3 linked regions of the Homo sapiens genome follow. The protein of the gene in region 1 interacts with the protein of each later gene in a biochemical or structural test. Each region holds a gene or a part of one and is shown in the gene's direction. Other genes may lie near its edges. The genes, in order: CDK1, CDC25C and RPA1.

Evidence for each region.
Region 2: the proteins of CDK1 (region 1) and CDC25C form a complex in vitro, tested with the Homo sapiens proteins (3 studies listed by BioGRID, with this or other methods).
Region 3: of the proteins of CDK1 (region 1) and RPA1, one has a biochemical effect on the other in vitro, tested with the Homo sapiens proteins (2 studies listed by BioGRID).

The regions. Positions count from the first base shown.
Region 1 is NC_000010.11:60,784,978-60,788,477, forward strand, and holds part of CDK1 (cyclin-dependent kinase 1), read left to right. Parts: intron 1-686; coding exon 687-810; coding exon of another isoform or gene 811-822; exon of another isoform or gene 823-2,092; intron 2,093-3,082; coding exon 3,083-3,253; intron 3,254-3,500. UniProt on the Homo sapiens protein: Plays a key role in the control of the eukaryotic cell cycle by modulating the centrosome cycle as well as mitotic onset; promotes G2-M transition via association with multiple interphase cyclins.
Region 2 is NC_000005.10:138,290,190-138,293,920, reverse strand, and holds part of CDC25C (M-phase inducer phosphatase 3), read left to right. Parts: intron 1-1,804; coding exon 1,805-1,951; intron 1,952-3,180; coding exon 3,181-3,282; intron 3,283-3,731. UniProt on the Homo sapiens protein: Functions as a dosage-dependent inducer in mitotic control. Tyrosine protein phosphatase required for progression of the cell cycle. When phosphorylated, highly effective in activating G2 cells into prophase.
Region 3 is NC_000017.11:1,874,907-1,878,637, forward strand, and holds part of RPA1 (replication protein A 70 kDa DNA-binding subunit), read left to right. Parts: intron 1-754; coding exon 755-887; intron 888-2,305; coding exon 2,306-2,408; intron 2,409-3,731. UniProt on the Homo sapiens protein: As part of the heterotrimeric replication protein A complex (RPA/RP-A), binds and stabilizes single-stranded DNA intermediates that form during DNA replication or upon DNA stress.

The DNA.
Region 1 (3,500 bases):
GAACCCTATTTTTGGTAGTTGAGAATGCCGCACATATGTAAAAGAGAACAGGCTGTTAAAGCAGGAACAGAGTTGGAGGAGCTGGGTGATGTAGATTAATATTTGGGCCTAGAATAGCAAGGTAAATTGGCCATGGGAGTAAAGCCGTTTTCATAGAGCTTTGTCAACTCTCTCCTACTTGGGGAGCTCTAGTTCCTGAAGACCCTTTAGTTAGAGTCTTAAGAAAAGTAGCTAGGTCAAATGAAAAAGATTTTTTTTCCTTAAAGTATTTGCATTGGGTGTTTTTGGAGACCTGTCTTCCTAACAGTCCAAGTTAAAATCTAATTGTACTTGGCTGGGGCTAGAGATTGGAAGTAGCTTTTAAGGTCAGATACCACTTTAAAATTTATTTGTATAATTCACTTCAGTGAAAAAATAAGCTCTCAGCAATTAGTAGCCAACCTAGATATGTTCTTTTGAATACAGGCTCCTTATAAATAAGCACCTCCTGTACAAGGCTTAATTTTAAATAGTTGCCCTGAGATTCCTTTCTTAAATTTGAGTTTTGAGTCTCTTCCATTAGGGAAGCTACTACGTCTTCCCCAGTTTTTATTATAGCAACTGAAATTATGGAAGGAGTTTTATTTTGTGAAACAGAGGTCAAAAATGTTTGCTGGATTCTTCTCTCATATATTTTTTTTCCCCAGTCTTCAGGATGTGCTTATGCAGGATTCCAGGTTATATCTCATCTTTGAGTTTCTTTCCATGGATCTGAAGAAATACTTGGATTCTATCCCTCCTGGTCAGTACATGGATTCTTCACTTGTTAAGGTAAAAGCTTAACTAATTTTATTAATATTTATGCACTGTGGATATAAAGGGACTATATATAGAAGTCCCTGCATTTTGTGGGAATATGCTTGGAAAAAGTGTTAGAATAAGAAAAAGTATTTCATTTTTCTCCCTCATGGTTAGTTTATACAGGTTAGAGATACCCATGTTATTACCAGATAGTGTTTCTAGTAAGTAAAAATTAGTGCCTGAGATAACATAGAACTGGTAGGTATTGTTGGAAGCTAGGGTAGTCTGGTCTTTCTTTGGCTGTCAGATACATGTAAAACAAAGTAATGAAAGCCTAGGGCAGAGTGGTGGTTGTAGGTGTTTTATTCCAGTTTTGAACATGTTTTGGTCAATTTATTGTAGACATTTATTATATTTCAGGTAAATTATAAAATTGTATAGTTTTAAGTACTGAAGTATATAAAAGTGTCTTATTCTTGCACCAGTTCTACCAAACCACTCTGCAGAGGTAGCGCTGTTAGTTTTATTTGTAATCTTACACTTGTATGTATGTTCACTTTGTATGTATATAAAGATTTTTTTTTTTACACAAGGTGGACTTATTTGCATATGTATATATACATATTTTCCCTTTTTTGTGTAAAACATTATCAAGACGTAGATCTACCTATGTCTATTTACATTTTTGATATAATTAAACCACTTCCATATTGATGAACATTTAAATTATTTTCCAACTTGGTTATTGTTGCTCTTATTAACAGTACTGCACTGAATGTCCTTATAGATATTTATCTTCGTATGCAACTTTATAGGATAAATTTTTAGAATGGGAATGATGGATTGAAGATGTTTATTTACATTTTGATAGATATTGCCGGTTGCCCCCTAAAAAACTTGTAGCAATTTACTCTTAAATACTCATGGTGTGTAATACTTATTGTTTTAGTACATCATTGCCAAAACTTGGTTTTATCAATCTGTTAACTATGTGAAAAAGGCATATTAAGATTGTTTTAATTTTATATTTCATGACAATTTAACACTTCATATTTAGCTATTATAAACCGCCTATATTTTCGTTAGGATACGTTCTTTAACAATCTTGCATGACTTTTGGACTTTCTGCTTTTATGTCTTGCTTAAGTCTTCCTCACTCAAAGATCGAATGTATTAGAATAATACATGTCAGTATTTTTCTGGTAGTTTTAGTAAGTCCTGTCTTCCACACATACTTTTTTTGTCTTAAATTCTGTATTAAGATTTATTTTGACTTAAAAACTGGGATACAGATTCTGCTTTATCTTTTTCCAAATGGCTAGCCAGTTGTTCTAACTGGTTTTATGTACAGGCAACAATGGTTTTACTTACAATTTTTCAGTTTTACAATGAAGCAGAAATGATGCACATTCACTAGAAACCATACTTCATTTACCCATACAACCATTCTGTTTTTTCACTTTCAGTACAGTATTCAATAAATAATGAGGTATTCAACACTTCCAACTATATGCTAATGTAAGTGTTTTGAGCACAATTAAGGTGGGCTACGCTTAGCTACGTTTGGTAGGTTAGGTGTGTTCAATGCATTTCGACAAGGTATTTTCAGCTTAGAATGAGTTTAACCAGATGGATCATCCGTTTTGTTTTGTTTTTTGAACACCACTTGTCCCTCTAAGATGGAGCATCTGTATTACTTTCCAATTTCAAACTGTAAGTCATTTTTCTGTGTACTTTGTTTTTGTAATATCCATGCTACTTCAGATGTCAATGACATTGTCTTTGGCAACAAATGTCTTGTAAAGCACTTTTCTCTGAACTAAGCAGCATTTTATGATAATTTTATCCATTGAAATATATAATCATAATATCTTTGCCATCACTTTTAGAATCTAATTTTTTCAAGAAGGAAATGAATATGTAAAAATGAAAGATAGAAAAGGCCAACTGTATTGAAGATACAAAATAGAGTTGGTAGCGGTATATAGAAGAAAAATCAAGAGGCTTCTGTGTAGAAAACCAATTTGTAATTTAAGGATCGGGGACCAAAAATGTTTAAAGACTAAATGTGTTCACATTACTATAGATATGTCTATAAGGTGAAGATTCTTTTCTTAGGTATACAAATGTGATGTTGTATATAAATGGGCTTCCCACCCACAAATGCTTATTAGCCTAAAATGGCCTGAAAGCTCTAGTAATTAAATTATTTCTCTGCGTCCTAATTTTTTGTCTTTGAAACAGATTATTTAGAAAATCATGTACTTCGCTTAAGTTTCTAACTTTTACTTGCTTTTTCCAGAGTTATTTATACCAAATCCTACAGGGGATTGTGTTTTGTCACTCTAGAAGAGTTCTTCACAGAGACTTAAAACCTCAAAATCTCTTGATTGATGACAAAGGAACAATTAAACTGGCTGATTTTGGCCTTGCCAGAGCTTTTGGAATACCTATCAGAGTATATACACATGAGGCAAGTGGAATAGTGGTTTTTGATGGCTTTTGAATGTGTGTGATTGCTAGATTATTTTCTGTATTTGTGAAAGTCAAGAAATAACTCAATAAAAGATATCTACTCTGTGGCAGTATCAATTTATTGCCTCTCAGCTCCAAATTCATTGCATGCTATGTGAAAATGGAACTGAAGCCTTTAAGTATTTTTTCTTTACCAGCTGCTATGTTGTTAAGGTAGAGGGTACTAGAGGGACATGGCAGGAGGA
Region 2 (3,731 bases), on another chromosome or scaffold:
AAACCCAGCACTTTGGTAGGCCAAGGCGGATGGATCACTTAAGCCCGGGAGTTCGAGACCAGCCTGGACAACATGGTAAAACCCTCTCTCTATAAAAAATACAGAAATTGGCTGGGCATGGTGATGCGCATCTGTAGTCCCAGTTACTCAGGAGGCTGAGTTGGGAGGATCGCTTGAGCCTGAGAGGCAGAGGTTGCAGTGAGCTAAGATTGTGCCACTGCACTCCAACCAGAGTGACAGCGAGACCCTATCTCAAAAAAAAAAAAAAAAAGATAAGTTTCAATTAGCTAATTAATTCCAAACTCTTAGTAATATGGCTCTTAGCATAATTATTATGGTGTGTTCTAGAGAAGCCCCTTTTGAAATCCTCATCTAGCTTTCCCCTGCCTTCTCAGGGGAAAATTGAAGTTATATGAAGTCCTGTCTGTCATGGAGACCAGGCACCCTACTCCTCAGTGCCTCACCATATCTCCTTTCCTACCCTACCTTTGGTTGATCCATTCATGCATCACTGGCTTCGTGGCCTTGACTGTATCTCTTGGCTTCTTCCTTTTGGGCTTTGGCTTCTGCTACTGCCTAATTATTTCTCCATCTTCCAAGTTAGGCAACCAAGAGAGGGAACCTGATTGGCCTAGATTATTTTTGCTTATTCTAGACCACTAAATAGATGTGTTCAACCAGCAATATGGTCCAGTCATCAGTGTCTGGGGGGTAGGGTGGATGGGGACATAGGGCGATGTTTGGAAGGAGTCTAAGGGTACGTATAATGTGGACGGTACCATCAGCTGGTATCACGAACAAGAGGTAGGACCATGTGTGTGATAAACAACATAATATCCATAGCTGTCATAAAGCAAAATGTTGTTATTCTTATTTCGTTCTTCCAGAAACCATTGATCATCAAGCTGCCTTCCAGTTATGGCTCTCTTATTGTATAGCCCCCCTCCTAAATCAGTCCATAACAGGTAGTGCGATAAGTGTTTAGAGAAGGAGCTTTTGCCTGTTCTCTAGGTGAGAGGTAGAGATCTCAAAGTATGTGGCAACAGAGGATAGAATTGTGGATTAGTTGGAAGGTGTTATCAGAGGTCATTTGATAGACCCTCAACTCTGAATATAGCACCCAAACCATGCCTTTCAAATAAACAACAGTCTATCCTCTTATACTTTAATCTGTTCCTGTGTAAGCAATTCTCAAGGCTAGTTCTTCATGACGTTTGAGCCACTTTTTTTTCCCTGATGGGTTTCATAGTATCCATCCTATAATGGTCAGCATGCTATTTGATTTTAGTGTGTCCTTTTTTCTTGCATGATGCTTCTTTTGCTATTTTTCTTCTTGGCTTTTCATCTTTAGGTTTGTTGAGGTCCTTAAATCCTGATTGTCAATGTCCTAGGATCCCAGAGACAAAATGGACTTATGTTTTTTTTTTTTTTTTTTTTTTTGGTCACATAACTGGAGGGACTGAGCTTGTGTTTGCTTTCTGTTAGAAGAACTGGTGCATCTAAGACAGTCAGCTGCAGAATTTGGTTTGGCTAGTTAAGACGTCCATGGAGATGGAATATCATGCAGTCCAGGTAGAAAGATATTAACGGGCCTATGAAGACAGGTTGCCTACCCAAGGCTTCTCAAACTTGAGAAATCACCTGGGCATCTTGTTAAAATGCAGATTTTAATTCAGTAGGTTTGGGGTGTGGCCTAACATCTGGAAACCTGCATTTCAAAGAAGCTCCCAGGAGATGTTGTTGCTGCAGGTCTGCAGACACACTTGGAGGAGTAAGAACTAGGGGGTTTAATATTCCCAAACAGGTGAGCAGAAGTGGCCTATATCGCTCCCCGTCGATGCCAGAGAACTTGAACAGGCCAAGACTGAAGCAGGTGGAAAAATTCAAGGACAACACAATACCAGATAAAGTTAAAAAAAAGTATTTTTCTGGCCAAGGAAAGCTCAGGAAGGTAAGAACTTTTTAAGATGAAAATCTTGTTCATCTTCTATCTCATGTCTTTGCTTTTCTGGTATGAGGATTGTTTTATTATGCCTTTTTTGTCTTCTTCCTCTTTACTTTTACTTTTTCCTCTTTGTTCTTTCCATCTTTCTGTCTTTTCTACATCTGTATCCACGTGAAATATATATATATATATAAAATATTTATATAACATAGATACATAAAGTATATCTATATTGTACTTTTAGAAATGTTGTCATAGGCCGGGTGCAGTGGCTCACGCCTATAATCCTAGCACTTTGGGAGGCCGAGGCGGGCGGATTGCCTGAGCTCAGGAGTTCAAGACCAGACTGGGCAACACGGTGAAACCCCGTCTCTACTAAAATACAAGAAATCAGCTGGGCGTGGCAGCATGTGCCTGTAGTCCCGGCTACTCAGGAGGCTGAGGCAGGAGAATCGCTTGAACCCGGGAGGTGGAGGTTGCAGTGAGCCAAGATTGTGCCACTGCACTCCAGCCTGGGCAACAGAGCAAGACTCCGTCTCAAAAAAAAAAAAAAAAAGAGAAATGTTGTCATCATACCGTCTTCCCAACCCTTTTTCTTAAGATCTGAAAGAATACAAGGGAACTTTGGTATGGATATTTTACTGCTGTTTTACATGCAGTCTGACAGAAACAACATCATATAGCAGGTTGGTTTTGTGGAAAGCAACTTCTGAAAAACTTAGCCTTTGTCCTTTACCCTCCCCAACTTTAAAAAAATTAAATAGATGGGAGGATCACTTAAGGTCAGAAGTTCAAGACCAGCCTGGTCAATATAGCATGACCCCATCTCTAATAAAAAAAAATAAAATAAAAAATTAAAATTCTAAAATCTTTGGATATTTTATAAAATCAACTTATTTATTTATTTATTTATTTTCCCCTGAGATGGGGTCTCACTCTGTCACCCAGGCTGGATTGCAGTGGCATGGTCTTGACTCACTGCAGCCTCAATATTTATTTATTATTAAAAATAATAAATAAACAAATGGAGTCTCACTCTGTCTCCCAGACTGGAGTGCAGTGGTGCAATCGTAGCTCACTATAGCCTTGGCCTCCTGGGCTCAAGTGATCTCCCTACCTCAGCCTCCCATGTAGCTAGGATTACAGATGTGCGCCACCATGGCCCACTCCATCCACTGGTTTTTAAACCTTTAACATGAGGATTGGGTGTGGGGTGGGAATCTTGTCATCTTCAGGGCTTATGTTTAAAGAAGACAGTCTCTCTGTGTGACATTACTATCACTCAGATGCTGGAGGAAGATTCTAACCAGGGGCACCTGATTGGTGATTTTTCCAAGGTGAGTTTGGCTACACCCATCCTGTATTTCAGTGAGTCATTTTGGATCTGAATCTTCTCTGTTTGCCGAGAATGCCTGGTGTAAATATGCATCCTCACCAAGTACTCTTTGGTAACCTGACAGTGCTCTAGTGGTAGATCCAGGCCCTAAGCCTTTCCAGAGAGAAAGTATTTCTTATTCTTCTGGGAAGATCCAGAACAGGGGAAAGTATGAGACTTTTTACCTTTTTTCTGTTTAAAAACATATTTTAAAATTATGTAAATAATACTTGGTTGTTACAGAAAAAGTAGAAAATGAAGAAATTTATCCCAAACTTTATTAACCAGGGTAATATTGCTTAGTATATACTCTTTTTTTCCCCCCTACTGTCTGTGTAATTGCAGAAGGTACATATTCTTACAGATTTTTTTCTGTGTTTTCACAAACACATATACAAATACAGTTTTTGC
Region 3 (3,731 bases), on another chromosome or scaffold:
TGATGTAGAGGGTATGAAATCACTGAACTAAATTATATTTTCTGAATTTGGACGTTGAGTTTTGCAGATACGTGGTGCGTATAAAAGAACTCACCTGATTCCCTGTTCTTTCCCAGCGCAGGGCAGCTGCTTAGGTTTGGATTAAGGAGGCGGAAGGGTCTTAGTGGTCACCCACTTAACATATCTTGACCAAAAACTGATTCCTGCCCTTTGCACCCGACGAAACTCATTCTTACAGACTTCATTCTAGACTTGCTAGTCCTTCAGACGCATTGAGATCTGGGAGTTGTCTGGGGATTTGGAGGCGATCTATTTGTGATAGGTCCCTTACATCCTGTCTTTCTTCATGTGACTAGTGCCTTGCCATCAGTTTTACCAGTTACAAAAGTTGATTTTCTTTTTCTCACCCATTATCTTGCCCGTTGAGGCAAGAGAAGTGTTTAAGAGGGCGGCCTTCAGAAACAGCAGTGTCTGGATTCGTCACCATTATTACTTTGACCTCGGGGCTGACATCAGCAAACATAGCAGTGAGCTGCTGTGTGCGCAGCCTTCATCCTAGATTGCTTTTGTAGCCTCCAGCCTCAGTCTCTATTTGATCTGCGTATCTCTTGCATATAAAAAGGAAAAGCTTTGCCTCTCATGTTATATGATTTCACTAGTGGCACCTCCAAAATTTAGAGTTATTGTAAAGCTTACTATAAAAAAGCTAAGTAGAATAGTAATAACTCCTTTTCGTTTGCGTTTGTTTTTAAAGGTTCTACTGTTTCTAAGGCTTATGGTGCTTCAAAGACATTTGGAAAAGCTGCAGGTCCCAGCCTGTCACACACTTCTGGGGGAACACAGTCCAAAGTGGTGCCCATTGCCAGCCTCACTCCTTACCAGTCCAAGTGAGTTGTTGCATAGAGTAAGTTCAGAGTGTACTTATGAAATCGGAGAAGCTATTATGGACTCTTGAGTTATTTATGCGTGAACTTCAGGGTCACCACCAAATACCACCAAATAGAATGGGTTTACTCTTTTTTTTTTTTTTTTTTGCTGAGGAGGAAAGGGGTACAAATTGTGGCAAACTTTTAACTCTTGTTGGAAAATATAGTAACAATAGCAATCTGCCATAGCCTGTGGGGTTTCATTCATTTTGAAAGAATTTGAAATTAAAAATACTTAATGCTTAATCAGTTGATAGTCTTATGAGTAAAAATAAATATTTCTGATAATTCAAAAGGCATTTAATCTTCTCCTATAAACAGGTGACTTCGTCTTTGGTTTAGTTGGCTAAAATAATCTGCACTATTTGTATTAAACACATGAACATACCCTGAACATAAATTTCTTTTATATGACTTTTTTCCACCAAAAATTAATTTGAAGCCGGGCGCGGTGGCTCATGCCCGTAATCCCCGCACTTTAGGAGGCTGAGGCGGGTGGATCACCTGAGGTCGGGAGTTTGAGACCAGCCTGGCCAACATGGTGAAACCGTGTCTCTACTAAAAATACAAAAATTAGCCAGGTGTTGTGGAGCACGCCTGTAATCCCCGCTACTCAGGAGGCTGAGGCAGAAGAATCGCTTGAACCCAGGAGGCGGAGGTTGCAGTGAGCCAAGATTGTGCCACTGCCTTCCAGCCTGAGTAACAGAGTGAGATTCCGTCTCTCAAGATAAATAAACAAAATAAAGTAATTTGAATAGTTAAAAATTAGAGTTCTTTTTTCAGAATCCTTCCAGATATGTTTATATTTATTCTTCAATACTCTGTAACGTAGGAAAGATATTTTTCCCTGTGAAATTATAAGTGGGGTACCTAATGTGCCCTGTGCCTCCTTTTTCCATGCTTCTCTCTAAGGTCATGCTGCTTCAGTGTGTTCTTCCTGATGGTCCACCAACATCGTGTATTCTATTCAGGGTGTGTTACGAATGAGACAGAAGTGTAACACCAGTTATATCAGTTCCCATAATTGAAAACTGTGGCAAAATATAATTGCTGGTGTTACTGTATTTTCCAGCTTAGAACCTTTCATTAAGGGGATATGGTTGCCTTGGTGATGCTTTTTGGAGAAGGGAGAGAGTTTATAAATTTACTTATTTGACAGGAGAATGAGTTAGTATTAAATCACTTTGCATGTTTTACTATTTGCTTATTCTGTAAACTGTCAAACCCATGTGTCATCTTGGGGTTTTAATTAGCTGGATTAAAATACAGGTTGGAAAACGGAATATGCGTAAGACGAGAAAGGCTGTAGGAAGATGATTTCTTACTTGATCTTTTCCAAGGAAGACCCCATACACTAATATGATCGATTTGGTTTGTAGGTGGACCATTTGTGCTCGTGTTACCAACAAAAGTCAGATCCGTACCTGGAGCAACTCCCGAGGGGAAGGGAAGCTTTTCTCCCTAGAACTGGTTGACGAAAGTGTGAGTGTTTGTCATGCTGGGGAGTGAGGGCAGTGGGCTCGCCGGGAAACAGAAGGCTCAGCTCTGCGGAGGGCAGTGGGCTCGCTGGGAAACAGAAGGCTCAGCTCTGCGGAGGGCAGTGGGCTCGCCGAGAAACAGAAGGCTCAGCTCTGCGGGCCTATGAGGTGAAGAATAATAGTAGGCCAGAGAGAAGCATGATTGTTATTGTGCTTTTCCCTCTGTCATAGTCTTTTGATGCTGTCTGGAGTAGAGGGTTAAGGTCATAAATAAAATCTTTGATCTTAAATGACAGCGTTTGTAGCAGTAGAAAGTAGTTTTCTAAATATATAAGTAGCCTCCTGGGCAGGAGAAGCTGGAAACAGTCTGATTTGCTGGCAGGTGTACTGGAAGCACTGGGAGGTGATGCCTGCTTGTGAGCGCCGTGGAGCTTTGGGACACAGCAGAAGGCACACAGTTGTGACCTCGATATGGGAGTGGTTTTGTGGGAAATGGGTTCTGACTGTGCAGATTCTCTATTTGCTTTATTTAAACTAAACAAAACCATGACGATGAGACAAAATTCCTATGCCATGGAAGTACGACAGTCTTGATAGCTGTTAATCAGTCCATTCGTTTTGCTAATAATTCCTGAAATTGCCGGGTGTGGTGGCTCACGCCTGTAATCCCAACACTTTGGGAGGCCAGGGTGCACAGATCACTTGAGGTCAGGAGTTCGAGACCAGCCTGGCCAACATAGTGAAACCCCGTTTATACTAAAAATACAAAAATTAGCTGGGTATGGTGGCAGGTGCCTGTAGTCCCAGCTACTTGGGAGGCTGAGGCAGGAGAATCAATCGCCTGAACCAAGGAGGTGGAGGTTGGAGCCAGCCAAGATTGCACCACTGCACTCCAGCCTGGGCGACAGAGTGAGACTCCATCTCAAAAATAATAATAATTCCTAAAATGTACTTCAGCATTCTTTTCAAAGTGCTGCAGATTTCCTGTTTGTTCAGACTCCCAAATAGGGAGAAAAAAATAGATGTTTTTTTTGGAAGTTGATATAACACCCAAAATGTTTGTGTGATGGCAGAATCAATATTAGAACCTAATTTTTTTTTAGAAATTATTGCTCTAATGTATGGTGGTTGGCTAAAATTTCTTGTCCACTTGTAAATTTTGGCTGACAGAAAAGCAAAAGTGAAAATCAGATCACAAGCAACTTGCAAACATGACTTACTCTGACATTTTTGGCAATGGCTCCGAATGTGAAGTGGTTTGTCACTGAGAGGGCACTGTGGAGGGAGCCGGTGAATCACCCCGTGGCAGCACCTTCCTCGTGGGCTC